4 separate regions of the Homo sapiens genome follow, and all the other regions are linked to region 3. Evidence: fine-mapped expression QTL. A gene starts in region 3. Each other region holds a variant in brackets. All regions are shown on one strand. Distances are from middle to middle. Region 1 has its middle 28 kb from the start of LINC02442. Region 2 has its middle 41 kb from the start of LINC02384. Region 3 holds the start of LINC01479 (long intergenic non-protein coding RNA 1479). Region 4 has its middle 93 kb from the start of LINC02421.

Region 1 (5,156 bases), 310 kb before region 3:
CCTGGAGGTATATAAAATTTAGATGCTTACATATACATTTTTTTTCTTGTTGACTTTTACTTGAAATATTTGTCCTGTGAATCTATTCTTTAACAACAGTGCTTTTAAGATCTAGTCCATCTTAAGGGTCACTATAAAGCCAGTCTCATTAATAATTTGGTAAATGTTAAAATATTCTATAGTTAGCAGCAAATAGACTGTTACTAACTTATTTTATGCAGATTAACAGCAAACTGATGGCATTGGTTTGGCATCTAGAAAATTGGTTATTGTCTTTAATTAAGGTATTTGGTCTATAGTGTATCCCTATATTTATTTTATACCATTGGCTAGGTCGAAAGATTTCGCTATTTTTCAACTGCTTAGCTATACTCTGAATATATTTCTTTTTTATTTAAAAATAATGTTGAAAGTTTACATACAGAAAATATTACATAGATTTATATATTAAAATACATAATTTTTATTAAAATAGAAAAACATTAGAAATATTAGACATATTTATTATAAATGCTATGTATAAAAATGTAATAAAAAATAAACCCCTGTAGGACCTCACCATTCAAAGATAATCGCTGTTCCCAATTATATATTTCCACTTAGTTTTCATTTCTATCACATATTATTTGTACATGACCGAGACCATGTGTCTGAACCTTGTTTGCATCAAATGTCTCATTATGTTGTAAGTATTTTCCCCACATCATTAATTTTTTCATAGAATGTTTAATGTTATATAACATTTCTCAATATGGATTTAAAATATTTTGTTTAACCTTCCTTCTTTTGCAAGGTATATACTTTTTCTGTATTTAAAATAATGCTGCAATTCAACTTTTTTTTTCCACTATTTTCTAAAGAAACTTTTCCAGGAGTAAAAAGTACAGGAATATGCGATCCTTTTTTATGTTTATAGTCTGTACTGTCACATTGCTTTTCTGATCCACTGAAAATATCAGCAATGTGAGAATTTCCCTATTCCCACTCCCAAGCAGTTCAAGACCGTGTCTCACTAAATGCCTATATTTTCACCCAAATATTCTAATATTCTTCTATTTTTCCTTTTCCTTGTTTTTTCTCCTCTTTTAAATTCACTTTAAGTATCTCATTACTACTTTAAATTTCTTTGGTTACTAGGGCAGCTAAAACGTTTTTATCAGATTTATTAGCCATTTATGGTCTTCTTATATAAAATGTTTTCTGCAGTTTGCTTTTGAAATAGCCCCTATGTGACTTTCCCTTCTGGCTGGTGTCAAAACATTTCTATGACCAATTCTAATAAATTTACTCATTGCCTTTTGATTCGGTAAAAATTGACAAGAATCCAGAAGTGATGATCTCTTGAATGTTGTTATTATTCCAAAGGTCCACATAGAACATTTGATTCAAAGAGGCAGTAACATTTTGTAGGACCATTATATAGCTATAATTATAAATTCTTATATCACATCCTGAATCTTGTGTCCCTTGTTATAAGAACTCATTTAAAGTAATATTTAAAATCAGAATTTAAGTTACATTTTTTTCTTTATTCCATCTTAGGACAGTATCCTAAATATCAGCTTGGCTGTGAATTTTGAGAAATTCCTAGCCACAGGTCATAATGTTCCTGTGTGCCAAGATAAGTTGGCTGAGAAATCCTAGATAAGATTCAGACATACATACAGGATGAGACTTTTCATTTGGCACAGAATTGGCTGCACGAGAAAGTATTCAGGGGATATGAACAAGGAAACTACCAATTTAAAAAGATCATCTTCTTATTTACTAAAATAGAGCTTGTTCCCCAAATAGGCCTATCTATTCAAAATGTAAGCCAAATCATGCTACTTCTCTGCCCAGGATGCTGTACCGGCTCACTGTTTTACTTGGAATAGAAATTAGGCCCTACACAGCCTTTCCCCAGCGTGCTCATCTCTGCCATTTCCTCCCTGCCTTCACCTTCTCTATCCCCTTCATTCTCTCTGCTCCAGCCACCCTGGCCTCTGTGGCATTCTTGGAATAAGTAAACTATCTGGCCTTTATATTAGCTGTTCTTTCTGCCTGGGTGTTCTTCCCCAAGACACTCGCAGGGCAAACCTGCTTACTCCTTCAAATACTTACTGAAATGTCACCCTCTCAGTGAGGCCTAGCTGACTCTTTTATTTCAAATTGCAACCTATACCCTCTTTTACAAGAACAGTAAGGAAGAAACAAATGACTATTTTCTCCTGCTATCCTCTCAACACAGATCACTTCTGATCACTGAGATGTGTGGGATTTTCCCCCACGCCAAGCGATTCACCAGCAGACACCAACTGGGTGTCCTATAATTTAATTCAATTCTGACACTAACTGGAGTTACTGCAGACCCCACAGGTTAAGAGCTTGTCCCATGAAACTGCCCTCCACTTCAGATACCAATCCCAAGTCTCAGGTTCTGTTCTATACTTCTGACCAACTAGCTACATATCGGAGGTTCCCACAATCCCCTGTGGGGTTCAATAATTTGCTAGAACAGCACATTTTTTTGTGTGTGAGCCCAGAAATGAGGGAAACACTTTGCTT[A/C]TGTTTACCCATTTATTATAAAGGATATTACTAGGGGTACAGACGAATAACCAGAGGAAGAGGCACATGAGGTGAAGTATGTGGGAAGGGGCACGAAACTTTCAGTTCCTCTCCAGTCATGCCATCTTCCTCACACCTCTACACATTCAACAACACAGAAGCTCCCTGAAGCTCAGAGTTCAGGGATTTTTATGAAGGTGTAATTGATTATTACCTGAATCTCCAGGCTCTCTCCCCTTCCCAAAGGATAAAGGAAGTACTGAAAGTTCCAAGTTTCTGATCAAGGCTTGGTCTTTCTGGTGAAGAGTCCCCATCCAAGAGCCCATCAAAAGTTACCTCGTTAGAACAAAAGACACTCCTATCACCCAGGAAATTCCAAGAGATTAAGATTCTGTCAGGAATGTGACCAATGACCAAATATTAGAACAAAAGATTCTTCTAGCATCCCGATTGCTCAGGAAATTATAAAAGTTTTAGAAGCTCTGTGCCAGAAACCAGGGGCAGAGACCAAACATATATTTCTTATTTTATCACAATATCAGACTGTCAATTCTGAGCCCCCTTACCTTGCTTTGCTTTTCTCCCCATAACAATGATCACCAATCATATGGAAAGACTTATTTATTATGTTTATTATCAGTTACCTTTTTAGAATGCAAGTTACAGTAGGGCAGGAATGTTTTGATTGTTGTTTACCAACATGTGTCTCAGCAGCTTAAAACAGTGCCTGGCAAATAGTAGATATTCAAGAAGTATTTGTGAAATTAGTTAAAAATGTCTTTAAGGGGCTGGGCACCTTGGCTCATGCCTGTAATCCCAACACTTTGGGAGGCTGAGGCAGGCAGATCACCTGAGGCCAGGAGTTCGAGACCAGCCTGGCCAACATGGTGAAACCCCGTCTCTGCTGAAAATACAAAAATTAGCCAGGCATGGTGGTGGGCAACTGTAATCCCAGCTACTTGGAAGGCTGAGACAGGAGAGAATTGCTTCAACCCGGGAGGCAGAGGTTGTGGTGAGCCAAGATCGCACCATTGCATTCCAGCCTGGGCAACAAGAACAAAACTCTATCTAAAAAAAAAAAATTCTGAAGAAAAAATACAGATGGCAAGTATGCTGTAGATGGTATTTGAATGGCTATCTAGAAAAAGCATGTAAGCTAATTTAGTCTTATATCACCTTTGTGATAATATAGACAATATTGTTTATTTGTTCATTAAATAGACATTTATTAGTCATGGGCTATGTATCAGCAATGTGTTAGACAGCAGGGATATAAGAGGGAGAAAACATAATCTCTGTCTTCAATGACTATATACTAGCAGCATGTAAGAGAGTGTCTGTAGGCCTGGCATGGTGACTCATGCCTCTAATCCCAGCACTTTGGGAGGCTGAGGCGGGCAGATCACCTGAGGTCAGGAGTTCGAGACTGGCCTGGCCAACATGGTGAAACCCTGTCTCTACTAAAAATACAAAAATTAGCCAGGCATGGTGGTGGGTGCCTGTAGTCCCAGCTACTTGGGAGGCTGAGGCAGGAGAATCGCTTGAACCCAGGAGGTGGAGGTTGCAGTGAGCCGAGATCATGCCATTGCACTCTAGCCTGGGCAACAAGAGTGAGAGTCTGTCTCAAAAAAAAAAAAAAAAAAAAAAAAAAAAAGGAGGGTGTCTGTAATAGTCAATTTGCATCAATTTGACTGGGTTAAGGAATGCCCAGAAAGCTGGTAGAGCTTATTTCTGCTTGTGTCTGTAGGGGAGTTTCTGAAAGAGATTAGCACTTGAATCAATAGAAATAAAGAGGAAAGAAGTAAAGAATATCCATCCTCTGTAATGTGGGTCGGCATCATCAAATCTGTTCAGGGCCCAGATAGAATAAAAAAGGAGGAGGAAGGGCAAATTTGTTCTTTCTGCTTGAGCTAGGGCTTTCATTTTCTCCTACCCCTGGACATCAACAATCCTTGTTCTTGAGCCATCAGACTTCAACGAGAGCTTATATCATTGGCCCCCCTGGGTCTCAGATCTTTGGGTTTGAACTGAAACTACACCACCGGCTTGCCTGTCACATGAACCAATCCGTCATAATACATCTCTCTCTCTCTTTTTCTCTCTCTCTCTCTATATATACACATATATGTGTGTGTGTGTGTTGTGTGTATATGTGTGTGTGTTTTATATATATAATACATCCCTTTATAAATCTCTCCTTCTCTCTCTCTCTCTCTTTATATATACATATATATATATATATATCTCCTATTGGTTCTGTTTCTCTGGAGAATAATACAAACTAATAAACCCTAAAGATGAAAAGTGGCTCTAGAGGAACAGAATTTTAAGGATGAGTTTTCTGATTTGGTTCTGAGGTTTCTGGAATTGGCTTTCTAATACCATTACATTAATGACGTTAATGACTATTTCCAATTCTAAAGAGAGCACTGATACTCCATTGCATAAACTAGTTATAGAGATAGAAAATATCTGCATTGAATACTCCTGATCCACCATTTATAAGAAATAAGAAGATAGATGACTCTGTATATGAGATTTTCAAATATTTTTTTAAAAATTAATGAGTATAATAGCATTGTTTGGTTGCTTCTTACGTTACTGGACAA
Region 2 (5,156 bases), 560 kb after region 3:
ATTCTCTTGGATATTCCAGGTAGTCAAGGTAAAGTAAGTAAATAACGACAGCTTCCTCTCTTTCTTTTCCCCTGACTACCTCATTTGCCAATATTTGTGCATTTTATGGCATGGGGGAAAGATTCATAATGTACTGTGGGTGAGGAGGGACCTTTAATACATTCCAGGCAGAGGGAACTCTATGTTTGAGCATGAGGTTATGAAGCAGCTTGACAGATTCAAGAAACTGGGAGTAGTTTGACAGGACTGTAAAGTAGGGCACAAATGAGGGAAGCAAAAGATGGTAACTTGAAAGAGAAAACAGTGGATCTTGAAGGATGACAAGTCATTAAGAGACTTCAAGCAGAGATGTAGCATGATAAGATTTATGTTTAAGAAAGAATGCCAATGTCAGCAGTGCAGAGGACTGACTGAAGAAGGTGGTACTGAAGAAAGGGAGAAAGGTTAGGAGGCTGCAGTAATGAGACAAACAAGTGGCGAGCCATCCATGGAGCAACAGAGAAAGGGCATGGATCTGGGAGAAAGGAATTCTACTCATTCAACCTCCATCTTGTTGTGATTTTTTTTTTTTTTTTTTTTTTGAGACAGAGTCTTGCTCTGTCCCCCAGGCTGGAGTGCAGTGGTCTGATCTCAGCTCACTGCAACCTCCACCTCCCGGGTTCAAGTGATTCTCCTGCCTCAGCCTCCCGAGTAGCTGGGACTACAGGCATGCACAACCACGCCCAGCTAATTTTTTGTATTTTAGTAGAGACGGGGTTTCACCAAGTTGGCCAGGCTGGTCTTGAACTTCTGACCTCAAGTGATCTGCCAGCCTCAACCTCCCAAAGTGCTAGGATTACAGACATGAGCCACCGCACCCTGCCCTAGTTGTGATTTTGGACCAGTTACATAATCTCCCCAAGCTTCAATTTTTGTAATCTGCAAAATTAAAATAATAGCACCAACCAGCATGACTATGAAGCTTAAGTAGGATAATTTGTGTGCAGTGCACTCAAAAATGGTAGATCTTTACTACTAAGCCAGACATTGACGGTGAGAATGAAGTTGAGATCACAGATTCTAGGAAGGCAAATCCATCAAAGTGCCATGCCAGAGTTAGCACTTCCTCTTCTGAGTTATGAGGGAAGGTGAATCTTGACGTTACCCCCTTTCACCCACACACGAAATTCCACCTCTCCTATGTTCCTTCTCCCTGCCCACACCTCCCAACAAGCCCATCGCTAAGACAGCTCTGGGTGTTGGATTTGAACATAACATAGTTAAACTACATGGCTCACAAATTATTATGACAACTCAGCAACAAAAAAAACCACAAACAACATGATTTTTTAAATGGCCCAAGGACTTGAATAGATATGTTTCCAAAGAAGATGCACAAATGGCCAACAAGCATGGGAAGATGCTCACCATTAGTCACTTGGGAAATGTAAATCGAAACCACAATGAAGTGCCACTTCGCACCCACGAGGATGGCTATCAAAAAATGCAAAAAACAAGTGTTGGGGAGGATATGGAGAAATTGAAACTCTAATATACTGTTGGAAGGTAAAGTCATTTGGCCACTGGAGAAAGTAGTTTGGTGTTCCTCAAAACATTAAACGTAGAATTACCATATGACTTAGCAATTTCCCTCCTAGGTATAGTGCCAAAAGAATTAAAAAACAGGTGTTCAAACAAGTACATGTATTGTATACCCATGTACACAGCAGCACTGTTCACAATAACTAAAAGGGAGATACAGTTCAAATGTCTGCCAGTGGATGAATAAACAAGAGGTGGTGTATACATATAATGGAATATTATTCATCCATAAAAGGGAATGAAGTACTGATACATGCTACAACATGGACGAACCTCAGAAGCATTATGCTAAGTGAAAAAAGTGAGACACAAAAGGTTACCTATTGTATGATGCCATTTATATTAAGTATGCAGCAAAAGTAAATCCACAGAGGCAGAACACAGATTTGTAGATATGAGGCACAGGCGGAAAGGGGGATGGGAAACAACTACTTAACACCTATAGGGTTCCCTTCTGGAGTGATGAATATGTCATGGAACTGGAGGTGACGGTTGCACAGCATTGTGAATGCACTCAATGCCACCAAAATATTCACTTTAAAATGATTAATTTTATGTGCTGTTACTGGTACCTAAATAAATAAATAATTTTTTAAAAAGTATTATGAAAGCCTTTTCACAGAAAGTGGATGTGATCAGCTGCTAGAGTTCAGATATACCTACCTCAAGTTACCAATGAAGGTAGTTTGCATTAAACCACTATGGTACCCACTCCAGTCAGTTTTTAATGCCCAGGCAGTCTGTATTGCTTAATAACACCAGTAACCCCAGTTAGGTGCGGTGCAATCTCCTGCTGATGTCAATACCTTAAACTAGTTGGAGCCCTTATTTTTCCTTCAATTATCTTGTCTTCCCACAGTCCCTCTGAACACTTCCAGCCGTAGCCTGGCTCCAGGAGCCTTTTGGAGGCAAGTTTTCACCCTTGGAGTTGAATCTTTTTTGACTGCAATGTCTCTTTGAAAGTTCTTACATACTATTATATGAAAATATTGCCTTTCCATGC[C/T]TTGACTATATAAGCTCCATGAGGTTTGGAACTGTGCTTCTTTTGTTTACCACCTTACCTGGTACATAGTACAACAAAGAAACAGGTTGTTTAGATCTCAACAGACCCAGGGGTTTCCTTATCTGCTATTTTAACTGCTTCTGAGTGTGACATCACTGAAACAAAAAAGTCAGATAGGTAAATTGTCTTTTAATTTTAACTTTGTAATTATCCTGTGTGCATAGGAAAGAAGATTGACTAGAAACTAGCTCATGCTTCTCTTATATCGCCATTCTCCTCCCCAGACAAAATACTACCTTGACCCCTATATCAACTCATGAAACACAGAATCCTTCTCAACCTCTTCCACCTGCAGCTCTTCCATAGGGTGTCTTTATTACTGCCTGAAAGTAAAAACTCTAGGATACTAATTCAATAGTTTAAAAAGTGAGGCCAGGTGCGGTGGCTCACACCTGTGATCCCAGCACTTTGGGAGGCCAAAGAGGGCGGATCACTTGAGGTCAGGAATTTGAGGCCAGCCTGGGCAACATAGCAAAACCCCATCTCTACTAAAAATACAAAAATTCGCCAGACATGGGCATGGTGGTGCACACTTGCAGTCCCAGTTGTCAGAAGGCTGAGGTGGGAGGATGGCTTGACCTGGGAGACAGAGGTTGCAGTGAGCTGTGATTGCACCACTGCACTCCAGCCTGAGCGACACAGCCAGACTTTGTCTCAAAAACTATATGAGGGTGTTTAATCCTTTGTCTTTTCCTAATGCAACGAATTGAGCAATTTGAATTCTGAGTAGAAGCAAACACATGAAAATGTTATTTCACTTTTTATTATTTATTTATTTAAACACCCTATTTCACTTTTTTTCTTTTATTCAAAGTGACTCACTTTTGTCCAGTTACCGACTTTCCAGAAAATATCGCCAGTACTGGAAGCTAAGATTGGACTATTTTACTGCTGTACATAAGCAAAGCCTTAATCTGGCTTTAAGGCTCAAAGAAAGATTCTACAGGTAATAATTACAGACAAATGGTGCCCCCAAAAAAAAGATGTTTTGACACTGCTAAGAATAAGCGTGCGTGGGTGCCTCCTCTGTGTCAAGCACAATACAGGGGAAGAAAACTGATTCACTAGTCAAAGAGTTTTGGGTGTGAATCCCAGCTCAGCCACTAACTATGTGAGCTTGAGAAAATTATTAAACATCTCTGAACATCAGCTTATAAACTTTAAAAATGGAAATAACAGGTACCTCATAGGGTTGTTGTATGCATTAACTATGTTAATGTATTTAAAGACTGCCTGGTACATATTAGTCTCTCAATTAATGGTCATTATCCTCCTAAGCAGGGCTCATCTTATTGAGATGAAATTGTATTGGCTTCTTGTTTACACACACACACACACACACACACACACACACACACACACACACAGAGAGAGAGAGAGAGAGAGAGAGATAAGCATCTCCTCATCTCATTTTCTGGCTTACTTAATAATAAAACTGTCAAAAGAGAAAAGTAAGACAAACTGTATAATGTACAAGAACCGTGGAAACAGTTTCCAAAAACTCTAAATCTGTAAGAATTCTGTTAGGTCAGCAGGTCTGCATCGATTTTACTCATATTTACCAAAGGTTGCTGCCCAATTTTTGCTGCTACTTTTCTTGTCACATCCATATTTTCCTATTACAGATATATTTTATGTTTCAATAACATATATGGGTCCCCACGAGAAACTAAACCAAATGTAATAATGAGCATTGAGGGATATATTTTTCAAACACTGTCTGATTCCTAGGAGGCCCAGAAATTATTTTCGTAACAAAATGAATTTCAATCAACTTGATAACTATTTAGAGAATGCCTACTACATTCAAGACACCAGAGGGATTCAAAGATAAATAAGATACAGTTTGTGTCCTCAAGCAGTTATAATCCAGCAAAAACCTGACATGACCAGCCATGTGCCAGATCTTACTATTCTAACAAACACACTTCATCCCAATGTGGCCTGTTCAATGCATCTCCCAGAAATACTTCAGACAAAATACATTGAAATAAGTATAGGTAATTTTTTAATTCTTTAGACAGATAATCTTGCTCTAAAAAGGTAACAAAACAGGCCAAGCACAGTGGCTCACTGTAATTCCAACACTTTGGGAGGCCAAGGCAGAAGGATCACTTGAGGGCAGCAGTTTTCCACCAGCCTAGGCAACACAGCCAGAACTCAACTCTACAAAAAAAATTTTTTTAATTAACAAGGGGGAAAAAAAAAAAAAGAAAGAAAAAGAAAATTAACCAGGCATAGTGGCACATGCCTGTAGTCCCAGCTACCCAGGAGGCTAAGGTAGGAGTATCATTTGAGTCCAGGAATTCGAGGCTGCAAGTGACCTATGATTAGGCCACTGCATTCCAGCCTGGGCGACAGAGTAAGACTCTGTTTCTTAAAAAATAATAACAATAAAAAAATTTAACAATAAAAGATAACAAAACAAAATACTATCTGAATTATCACTTGTGACTGACGCTGTTGTTTGAATTCACCAGGTAATTCCTCAATTATCCTTTTCTATATAGAT
Region 3 (5,156 bases):
TCCATCTCCCGGGTTCAAGAGATTTTCCTGCCTCAGCCTCTTGACTAGCTGGGACTACAGGTGTGCACCACAACACCCAGCTAATTTTTGTATTTTTGGTTGAGATGGGGTTTTGCCATGTTGGCCAGGCTTGTCTTGAACTCCTGACCTCAGGTGATCCACCCACCTTGGCCTCCCAAAGTGCTGGGATAACAGGCATGAGCCACCGTGCCTGGCTGAAAACCATATTTAAAAATATTTTAAAATGTAATAAACATTTATTAAGTATCAGGCACTATTCTAAGAGCTTTCCAGATATGAACTCACGTAACCCTATGACAGTCTGCGGGGGGTTCTGTAATCAGACCCATTTTACTGACAAGGAAGCTGAGGCATAGCACATTTAAATGATTTGCCCAAGGGCACAGAATTTGGGTTCAAACTCAGGCAAAATGGTTCTAGAATCTCTATTCTTAACTGCTATGCTAAGCTGCCTCTATATTTGCTTTATATATTTTTAAAATATTACTCCTACTTCAGCTTATAACTAAAAGGACATTATAATTGCCTGTCATATTTTCCCACAGGCAGTAAACCAAGATGCCAAGTGAAGACTTCTCTATAGCATAGGGCAAAAATCCATGAGGCTAAATCCTGGTGTTCATAGTCTATGTTAATTTGAAAACCAAAAACCCATAAAACGGCATGTGGGGAGCTTCAAAAGAACTGCTGTCTTGGGAATTCTTACCAGCTTTGAAGACTTCGGGGAGGTGTGGTCTGTTTTTCCTTCTCTGGATTCTCCTCCCGGCCTCTAATCCAGAGCCTGTACATGTGGGTGAATTTGCACATGCACGCCTGCACACACACACCCACCAATGGTAAAAGCCTCTCTGGGATACTTTCAGGATCCTTGGAGTCAGGGCTCTATACAGGGCTATTTTAAAGTGTGATGGTTCACTGAAAAATGTTGTCAAACAGCAAAGTACCAATCTTTTTGAATCACTAGGTCATATTTTAGAGACTGTGAGTTCTACCCTTGCAGGAACGTGACTTTTTCACACTGTATTTTCTCAAATAGGAGAGAAGAGAATTCCAACCAGTGAGATGAGAATTGCACAAATCCTGCAGCCCATCTCTGCCACAGCTCAAAGTAAGCAACTTTTACTGCTGTATTCTTAAATAGTCCCAAGGATCAAATTATATCTCTGCTAAAACATTGTTAGGCCTAACTTCCTCACCAAGAATGTGGACTTTGGTCCGACTGCCAGGTTAAGAGGGCGTTTCTTGAAAACTTTTGTTTCTTTGTAGGCACAGTATGTGCTTATTAGATATAAAAGCTAATGGATTAACTAATTCCTTTAGCCTTTCCAAAATAGAGGTTTCATGGAACTATCTAGGCCCATAACAAATGTTTCTGTGATGAAACAAACTCAGGAAACTGTATATTTTCTTTTTCCCTTAAAGCTTCACAGAATGCATCATCTCATTAAAAGCTCCAGAAACCCTACAAAGAAGAAACCTTACCTGGTATCCCCCAAACTAAGATTGATAGATTTCCACTGGTTTGTAAAAGAGATTCTTATTCTGAGAAGTTCTCATGGCTCTTAAAAAGAAGTCACCTTCTCATTGTATAGACTTAGACACATAATTTGTACTTTTTTTTCAGATTGTTGGGTAAGTAATGACCCAGACCATTGAAGAAAATGAGGAAACTGTGCACACAGACTGATGTCTTATGTGACCAACATGCATATAAGAAATGGAAGCTTCCCCCTATCTTTCCAGAGTTCAAAAATCCTATTGCTGAATTCACCTCCAATTCCATGAAACAATATAAAAGATCCTCCATAAAGACCCCAGGTTATAATGTTTACAATTTATTTTGTACTCCTTTTCTCTGGTAATTGATGACTGCTATTATTAATGAAGACATTACAAGGAATAAAAGGGCTTGCCTGCCACTTCTCACCACAAAACCGTGTGGCATCAAACAGAATGAAATCCTTCTGACACTGACAGCTGGAGAAAACCTTGTCACCACAGTGACAGTGTCAAGTGTGGTGTGACATCTCTGTGTGTGTTTCTTTTGCACCTAATAACTTCGTTGCCAATACAGACCAAAATAATGAAAGAAAACCTGCTTTTGCCAGCCCAAAGGATTAACTGTACTGTTGAGAAAACTGCAGGAATATTTGACATGAGATCACAATTTTTAATTCTTTTCCCCCCAGGATTCTGCATGAAGTATTTTTCTATGAAGGATTTAAATAGAATTACTTTTCCTCACATTGGTCATGGAGAGAATTAAGACATTAACTGTTGATCCAATTTATACTGCCATTTGATCCCATAAGTGCTATACAGGACTCGGTTACTCATGGAAAATAGTTCCTGCCAGATCAAACACTCTCAGGGCCAAAGTCACAAGATTCTGACTTTACATGCTCTGTTCTGCCTCCTTTCATTTTGCCTCTTGGATTGTCATGAACTTCCTGAGCAAGAAGGCCATCCACCATGCAGTGTAATGTCTTGCTAAGAGAAATTAGTATTCAGTCTGCTCAGGTTCCAGCAAGGACTTTCTTCATGAAGATCTTCAAGTGGAATCAAGGTAGGAACTGTTATCCTTTTCAGTCCTTGTGCTATTCATTCACACCTTGGAACAAAAACAAAGCTGAACTCTTTAGAGGGGAAAATTGATACCGCATGGTTTCTGGTGTATCTGCAACTTTTGGCTCTGGTTTGGAAAAGGGTGTGTATGTGTCATGCACACATGTCTATTTCATCCTATCTGACAAATACCTTTGTGAATTGCTTTGTTGACTATTTGGGTGTTACTGCAGGTTACAAATTTCTAAGAGGGCTGGGAGACGTCTTTAAATCCCATAGGCATTGGATCATGTGTCCTCTAGTGGCCATGAACACTAGTTTTAGATGAAAGGTCTCATTTTCAGATAAGTATGAGGAATACTTTATTTTCAGCCCTCTCTTTTAAGAGGCATAAAATCTTTTAGTGCTGAAAACACTTGTACTACCTATAATAAAGAATTATGTTTAAGTCAGTGTGTTCCTAATTTGACTATGGAATTCAAACTTCTTGTAAGAGTCCACAGACCAGGTAAGACTTAAAGATTTGCCAACATTCAAAACCTCTGAAAAATAACCCATTACTTGGCAGCTAGGTGATCTCCCTCCTAATTTATCTGGCTCTATTTTCTTTTCTCTACCATCACCAATAGCATCTTTCTAATCCCTCACTCGGATCTTCTCATTCCTCCATTCATTAGAATACCAGTTCATTTCTTCAATAAACATGCCAAATAGGAGTGGCTCTAACAAGACGGGAAGTTTTTTCTGATGTGACAGTCTGTATATTTGCAGTCCAGGACTTGAATGGTGACAGCAAGAGGACAGAGGCTCCAGGTTCCTTTTGTTTTAGTGCTCTGCCATGTGTAGGGTGTTTCCCATCCAAATGTTCCAAGATGTCTTACCACTGTGTCTGTATTCCAGGCAATGGGAAGGAGGGAAGGTGAAGGGGAGAGAATTTTCCTTCCTTGCAAGAGCATCATCTGCAAGTTGTGTTTCTGCTCACACCCCATTGACAGAGCTTTATTGCTTGATCACAGCTAGCTGCAAACGAGGCTAGGAGATGTTTTAGTCAGTCTGGTAGCCTTTGTCACACTACAATTTCTATGTTAGAGGAGAGAGAGAGAGAACATATATTAGGGAATAGCTAACCATCTCTGCTACACCTATGACCTTCCATTTGTCTCTTACAATGAGTTTGTGAAGTTAGAATTTTTATCCCAAGTTTTCCACTGAGAAAAATAAAGCTCATAAACCTGAAATAATTTTAATATTGTCACCATGTTAAGAATGATTAAGGGTGTGAAGTTTTGTCTGCTTCCAAGCTAACAAGGGAGCCGCCACAATTGCATGGATTCTTGCAGAAGACACAGATTCCTGAGTCAGACACAGAGGACTTTATCACTCATGGCACAGCAAGCAGCATCAGCTCCAATATTCATGTAGGTTCTTCTTGTCCTCCAAATCCTATGGGGCATTAGGGGGTGGCCAAGGTAGATGCTGCAAACGCAGTCGGTTTGCACCAAAGGTGAAAAACCCCGAGCTTAGGAAACTACAAGCTTTTAAAGAGGCTATAAGGAAACCTGCCCAACTTTTTCCTTAGAAGGAAACCTTTTTTTTAGTATCCTAGTTAAGAAACAAATCTCTCTGCTTGAGAGAGGCACGCTACCTCTAACCTCCAAGAAGTTCACCATACAAATATTCTTGGAAGGCAGTCCCAAATAAAAGTCTCTTTGTTGACAAGGCTTGCAGAAACATGAGACACCCCTGGACATTTTTTTTCCCAACACACAGATAGTCTTGCTATCTTCATTACAATAAAGGTACTTCTTCAAGAAATCTCCCACTGACCATGCCTCCATCATCAGGGCAGTTCTCACTTTTTATTGTAATTGTTCACACCTCTGGATCTCCATATTGGAATATCAGTTCCTTGAAGGCAGGGGCTATGGCTTTGCTTTTATATCCCTAGCACCTAACACATTACTTGGAATATGGAACATGTTCAACAACTATTTTGAATGAAGTATATTAGAATAAGATTTACTTAAGGGATAGAACAAATCAGCAAGCATTACATGTTATTGAATCCACTTGAGGTTCTCTTTGTATGGATCCTAGGGTAGGTGGCTAATTTTTATGATTCAGGCCTCAAATACCACTCCCCTGACCACTGTATTTAAAACATCATTCTAGATAAGTCTAATGATAAGCACTTGTCACTACCTAATATTATTCTGCTTGTTTATTTAGGTATCTGACTCCCCTTCTAGAATAGAAACCCATGACTTCAAGGACTTGCCTATCTAGTTCATGACTATATTTCTATACTCTAAAATAGTGTCGGGCCTAAAATAGAAGTTTCATAGGTATTTTTGAATGAATAAGTGAATGAGTAAATTCAGCAAACATTCACTAAGTTTATACCATCTGCTAGGAACAAAATGTTTTACCATGTCACAGTGGCCCACAAAGAATACTGTTACTTTGGACAACTGAAACAATTCAATATCTGGGTTGAGTTGAGTGGCAGCATCACTTTTGTTGGGGCAGTGAGCTTCCATTCCTCACTACAGATATTCCACTGCTGGCTT
Region 4 (5,156 bases), 110 kb before region 3:
TGGGAGGTTGAGGTGGGAGAATCTCTTGAACCCGGGAGGTGAAGATTGCAGTGAGCCGAGATTGCACCGCTGTACTCCAGCCTGGGCCACAGAGCGAGACTCCATCTCAGAAAAAAAAAAAAAAAAAAGAAGTTTAACAAAAATTTTTTGAGTGGTATATATTATACTAAGTCAAATACTATTTCAAATATTTCTTCTTCATATGAACAATATGAAGTAGAATTTATTAATAGATATCATCATCCACATTTTACAGTTGAGGAAACAGACAGAGTAGATAAGTAACTTCCTGAAATCACACAATTAACACATAATGCAGTCAGGACTCACACACACATGGCACTGATTCCAGAGCCTGTACCTGTAATCATTACACCACACTGCTTTCTGATGCCAGGGGTTACTGTGAAAGTCCACAATGAGTGAGAGCAAACGAACATCACTGAAAATGAACTGGGTAACTGCTTAATTAGAAAAGTTGCAGGCATGGCTGGGTGTGCATTCCTTGAAATTAAAATTGACTGGGACGTGTTAATAACTTTTCACCCTTCTCAATTTAAAAGATCATATTTTCTTTCAACAATTTTTGTTTTTATTTTGTTTTGTTTTGCCTTCCTTTTCCATTATTCCTTTTCTTTTTCCACTGTCACTCTCAGCTTCCAGCCTTCTTCTTTTTTGATCTTTTTCTTCCAGCACTCTGAGCTGGAAATATTTTAGGAGCAGCTTGTTACATGATATTTCACTAAAAATAATACAAGTCAAGTTATTGGCAAAAGAGTTAGCCTTGGAGAAACAGTTGTTCAGAACCTGGAAAGCGGTGTGGTAGATCTGTCCCGGCTTTTCAAACAGGATAAATCTCTGAGACTTTGTGTCTGGTTGTGAGGGTGTCCAGACTAATAGAGATGAATGATCATGCGACTCCTCAGTGGGCTCAGCTGCCTTGAAAGGGTGAGGCCTTGCCGGACAAACATTTTGGGACAAATGGGTCTTATGGATTTGTGGAAGTGATATGGCCACTTTACCAATTTACTCTCCTCTGCTGATTTAAAAGTTTGACCTCCTCAAGCCTCTGTTCTCTCCTCCTGTTATTCTACATCTCTCTTACTCGCCCACACCCATTCGATTCCTGCGTACTGTCTAGAAGCCTAGCGGTTCAGCATGTGGACTCTGGAGCCAGACTCTCCGGGTTTGAATCCTGGCTCTGTACTCCTACCCGGGTGATTTTAAGAATTCTGGGCCTCAGCTTTCTTGTAGGTAAGTAAGTCTAACAACTGTACTTGCCTCAGAGGGTTGTTAGGAAGATTAAATGATTTAGTATTGATAAAGTGCTTAGACAGTGACTGGTAAAAGTGAGTGTTTCCAAGTCAGTTTGTTAAATAAACTTGCAAATCTATCTAGTTTAGACTTTTCCTCTGTATTCCAGACCCACATGTCAACTCCTTATCTCTGCTTGGATATGAGACTAACAACATTTCCAGAATTCAGTCTTTAAAAGACATCCTTTGCTTTTGATGTGCCCTATGTTGGGGATCCCCTCCCCTCTATCCATCCTGTCTAGAAACATGGGGGTCACTTTCACCTCACTCTACCTCACTCTATCCATTGTATTCTTGACTCTGCCTCCTAAATATCTTCCAAATCCTTCTATTGCTGTCCATTAACTTTGCCATCCCTAGTGGGCCAAGCCACCACCATCTGGTTTCGGACCATAGCAATGAGCACCCAAATAGTCTCCATGTACCTGTGATTATACCTCTCCAGTTGATTCCTCTAACTGTGGAAAAGGATAACTTTCAAAATGAAATGCAGTGGCATGCATTTTAAAAGCTCTCCCACTAATGTGCGTTGTTCTTGGTTTATAAAGCTTCAGATTATTATGCTTCAAGGAGTAGTGTTCTGCCTCTGCTTCCCTCTCCACTTCCATTCCTCAATCCCACTCCACCTAGGACCTTCAGCAACATAGTTCCCTCTGCTTAGAATATCACTGCTGTCCCTTCCTGCCGTTAGTCCTGCCCCTCACTCGCCCCACCCATCAATTTCACTCTCCCTTCAAGATGCAATCCAGTGTCACTCCTTTCACCCGTTTGGTATCCTAGTTGGACATTTCAATCACACTCTTGCTTATCCTTTGTGTCACTTATTACAATCCTAATTTAATATTTTAAATTTAATTTCTGTCTTCCTACTAGACTCCCCACTTGGCAAAGACTTTATATCACCCAATGCTGTATTTCCAGCACACAGAATGAGCCCAATGAATAGCTGTTTAATGAATGAGCAAGTATGTGTATGGCTTTACTCATGTTGTTATACGTTTGATCACTGTTAATGAGCACAGAAAAAAAAAATCAAGCACCTTCTCCCACACTGACGCCACATCCATTAAGAAAAAGAAGGATCCTGGGTTCATGGATCCCAAATTTCTACAAATGTAATGTCTACATTTTTTAAAAAGGATTTTATTTCAAATTACCTTCCACAGTTTGGAACCACACTTGATATCCCTGAAAACATTTATTTGCCTTAAATGCACATTCTCAATGCATTTTGCGTAACTTAAAAAGTTCTATTTCTATACAATTTTTTTTCCCAAGGTATGCCTCTATTCCTATCTATGACAAGCTTGAAGAACAATTCAATCTCATTATGACCTTTTATTTCAACTTTGTCCCTCAGTGCCTATAATGAGCCACAAATGTTGAAATAGATCAT[T/A]CTTTTCATCATTCCTCAGTGGCCCAATTACCAGGAAAGCACAATACCCCAAGAAAAAATAAAGGAGAATGAAAGCCTGCTCAAAGGACGCATTTACATTCTTAAGGATTTCTAGCTTTTTTGATGAAATAAATTACAATGAATGAATCAGAAACTTTATCAGACCTTCATTTCAGGAGAGCCACATGAAAAGGAAGCTGAAGTTCTTTACTTATCCAATAGTCAGTTATAAGGCTATGAATATTCTATAATATTTTATGTCTTCTAATGTAAATGGTAATATAATTGAAGAACAATTATATTAACTATCAGTTATAAATTGGAAAAATTTTAAAAATAGAAAATAAAAAATCTGAATATAATTGTTTAGCTCTAATACACAATTATTTGATTTGTTTTTGGATCCTTGAATTTTAAAACATGTTTGTGTTACCCTCTTGATTCTCTTATGCAGATTACAGCTGCATTTTCTTCTGTCTGTTGGCTGTAGAAATGATACAATAGAAAGCGCTTTTTCTTTATAGACTGGTTGCATGTCTCTGCTTTGCTTAATCCCTAAAACTCTTTCAGGGATTTAAAACTGCATGTAAAAATGTTTCCATCATGCTTGCTGAGTTGAACTAGGTTAATGAGGTTGGGGGACTATCCAGGAGAGTACATGGATTGCTCAAGAGGGTCATTTAACTTTGTTTTCAGAGGGGGTCATGAGAGTCTTGGATGTTCTGAACTTAAACATGCATTTTAGGTGTTTTATTCCTTTTCTTCATTATTAATTTAGGCTTTATTTCTCCTGAATCTTTTGAATTAATTATATTTTTTAGAGGTATAGCCTCTTGATGGTAGAGAATTCTACAAAAATATTGCTTTTTACATGAAATAGCAATTCTCACTGCTAAAATACCTTTCAGAATTTTAAAGGTGGTATTCTCATTTTAATATCTAAGGATTTGACTTTCATTCATACAAAATTGTGTACAGTTTTAAAGACTTCCATTAGGTGCTCTCTCAGCCTTCATCTTTCCTAACTAAAGATTTCTAGTCTTGTCATCCTGACAACTCAAGGCTCAGTGACCTTCCCTAGAATAGTGGATATTCATTAGTTTTTGGCTTATCAAAATCTAATTCATTCCCAATTCCCAGTTGTTCAATGGGGATCCACCACTTGCCACTCTCACTATATATACACACACTATACACCAGGAAATCTATTTTATATATATATATTAAAAATATATATAGCATATTATATATAATATAGAGTGTATATATAATATATAGTGTATATATAATATATATAATAGTGTATAATAGTATTTGTGTATATATATACATATATGTATACATATATACATATATTTGTATATACATATATACACATATACAAATGTATATACAAATGTATATACAAATATATGTGTGTATATATATATATACACACACAGTGTAGCTGTCATCAACCCTGGCCTAGGGATGGTATCTAAGTCATGTGTGGCCACACAAGGTCTCATATTTCCCTGTCTGTAGTGATTTGTTTAGAGGCAGACTTGTGACCAAATCAGTGCCATTGAGATGCTATGAAATATTTCTTAGAACTCTTGGATAAGAGAATGGCATGCTTTGGGGGGATATATTTAAACACGAGACAATGCGCGTTCTGAGGCTGTTGTAGATATCTATCACAAGGGGACATTTTTTTGAGGATGAAACTCATTGTAATTAAACAGTAGCCTTTTACAACCCTAGGAGAAAGTGAAGCCTGAGACCTTAATATGTTATTAATGTTCTGTAATAATCAATTCTCAGTCTCTGAAGGATGATGTTAATGATTTGAAATATCTGAGGGCCCCAAAAATAAAATAAATACACAATGGGAAAACCCCAAGTTTTGAGGGCTGTGGAGCCAAGTCCCATCATTGGCTATACAAATGAATTATAGTTAGGGGAAGAAAAGCAGATGCATGGGTTAGCTGAGGTTTCATGGGGCCACAGGGCACAATGGTTCATTCAATAATTAAACTAATTTTCCCCACATTCAATTAACAAAACAATACATGGTTATAACATATTACATACCAAAGTTGAACAGTAGTCAAGTAAAACATGATAGGATTTTCATAGATCAAAGGATCCACCAGTGAATTACAGCAAAATATTCTAATTTCCCTAGCTGATACAAACTCTGGCTTGGTCAATGAGTCCATTATCTTTATTTTTTGCAGAGTTGTAACAGAGTAGTGTAGTAAAGAAGGAATTAAGCCCAGCCTGAGTCCCATAGCTACTGAGCTGTATGCCAAGGCAATCTTTATCTCAGTGTCCTCATCTTTAAAATGGAAGGGTAGATAAATAGCCTTCAAAATCCTTTTAATGTTTTGTTTTTGGTCTATTTCTTTTCAAACATTTTATACTTAGCCCAAATCCTTACCAATACATTTTAATTATTAATC

The links. PIP is the estimated chance that this variant, and not a neighbour inherited with it, causes the effect. A credible set is the group of variants that fine-mapping cannot tell apart.
Region 1: its variant is the best candidate, but not a certain one, in a credible set for the expression of LINC01479 in blood mononuclear cells (TOPMed, PIP 0.78).
Region 2: its variant is the best candidate, but not a certain one, in a credible set for the expression of LINC01479 in prefrontal cortex (CommonMind, PIP 0.60).
Region 4: its variant is the best candidate, but not a certain one, in a credible set for the expression of LINC01479 in skeletal muscle (FUSION, PIP 0.62).

What each region holds. Positions count from the first base shown.
Region 1 is chr12:67,615,858-67,621,013 of GRCh38, forward strand. No RefSeq gene overlaps it. Among named protein-coding and RNA genes, the nearest start is that of LINC02442, 28 kb to the left of the region's middle. The variant A/C (reference allele first, on the strand shown) is at 2,548.
Region 2 is chr12:68,490,299-68,495,454 of GRCh38, forward strand. No RefSeq gene overlaps it. Among named protein-coding and RNA genes, the nearest start is that of LINC02384, 41 kb to the left of the region's middle. The variant C/T (reference allele first, on the strand shown) is at 2,585.
Region 3 is chr12:67,926,801-67,931,956 of GRCh38, forward strand. LINC01479 (long intergenic non-protein coding RNA 1479) reads left to right here and starts at 2,435. Exons shown (of 3, transcript NR_120456.1): 1 at 2,435-2,587.
Region 4 is chr12:67,819,747-67,824,902 of GRCh38, forward strand. No RefSeq gene overlaps it. Among named protein-coding and RNA genes, the nearest start is that of LINC02421, 93 kb to the left of the region's middle. The variant T/A (reference allele first, on the strand shown) is at 2,713.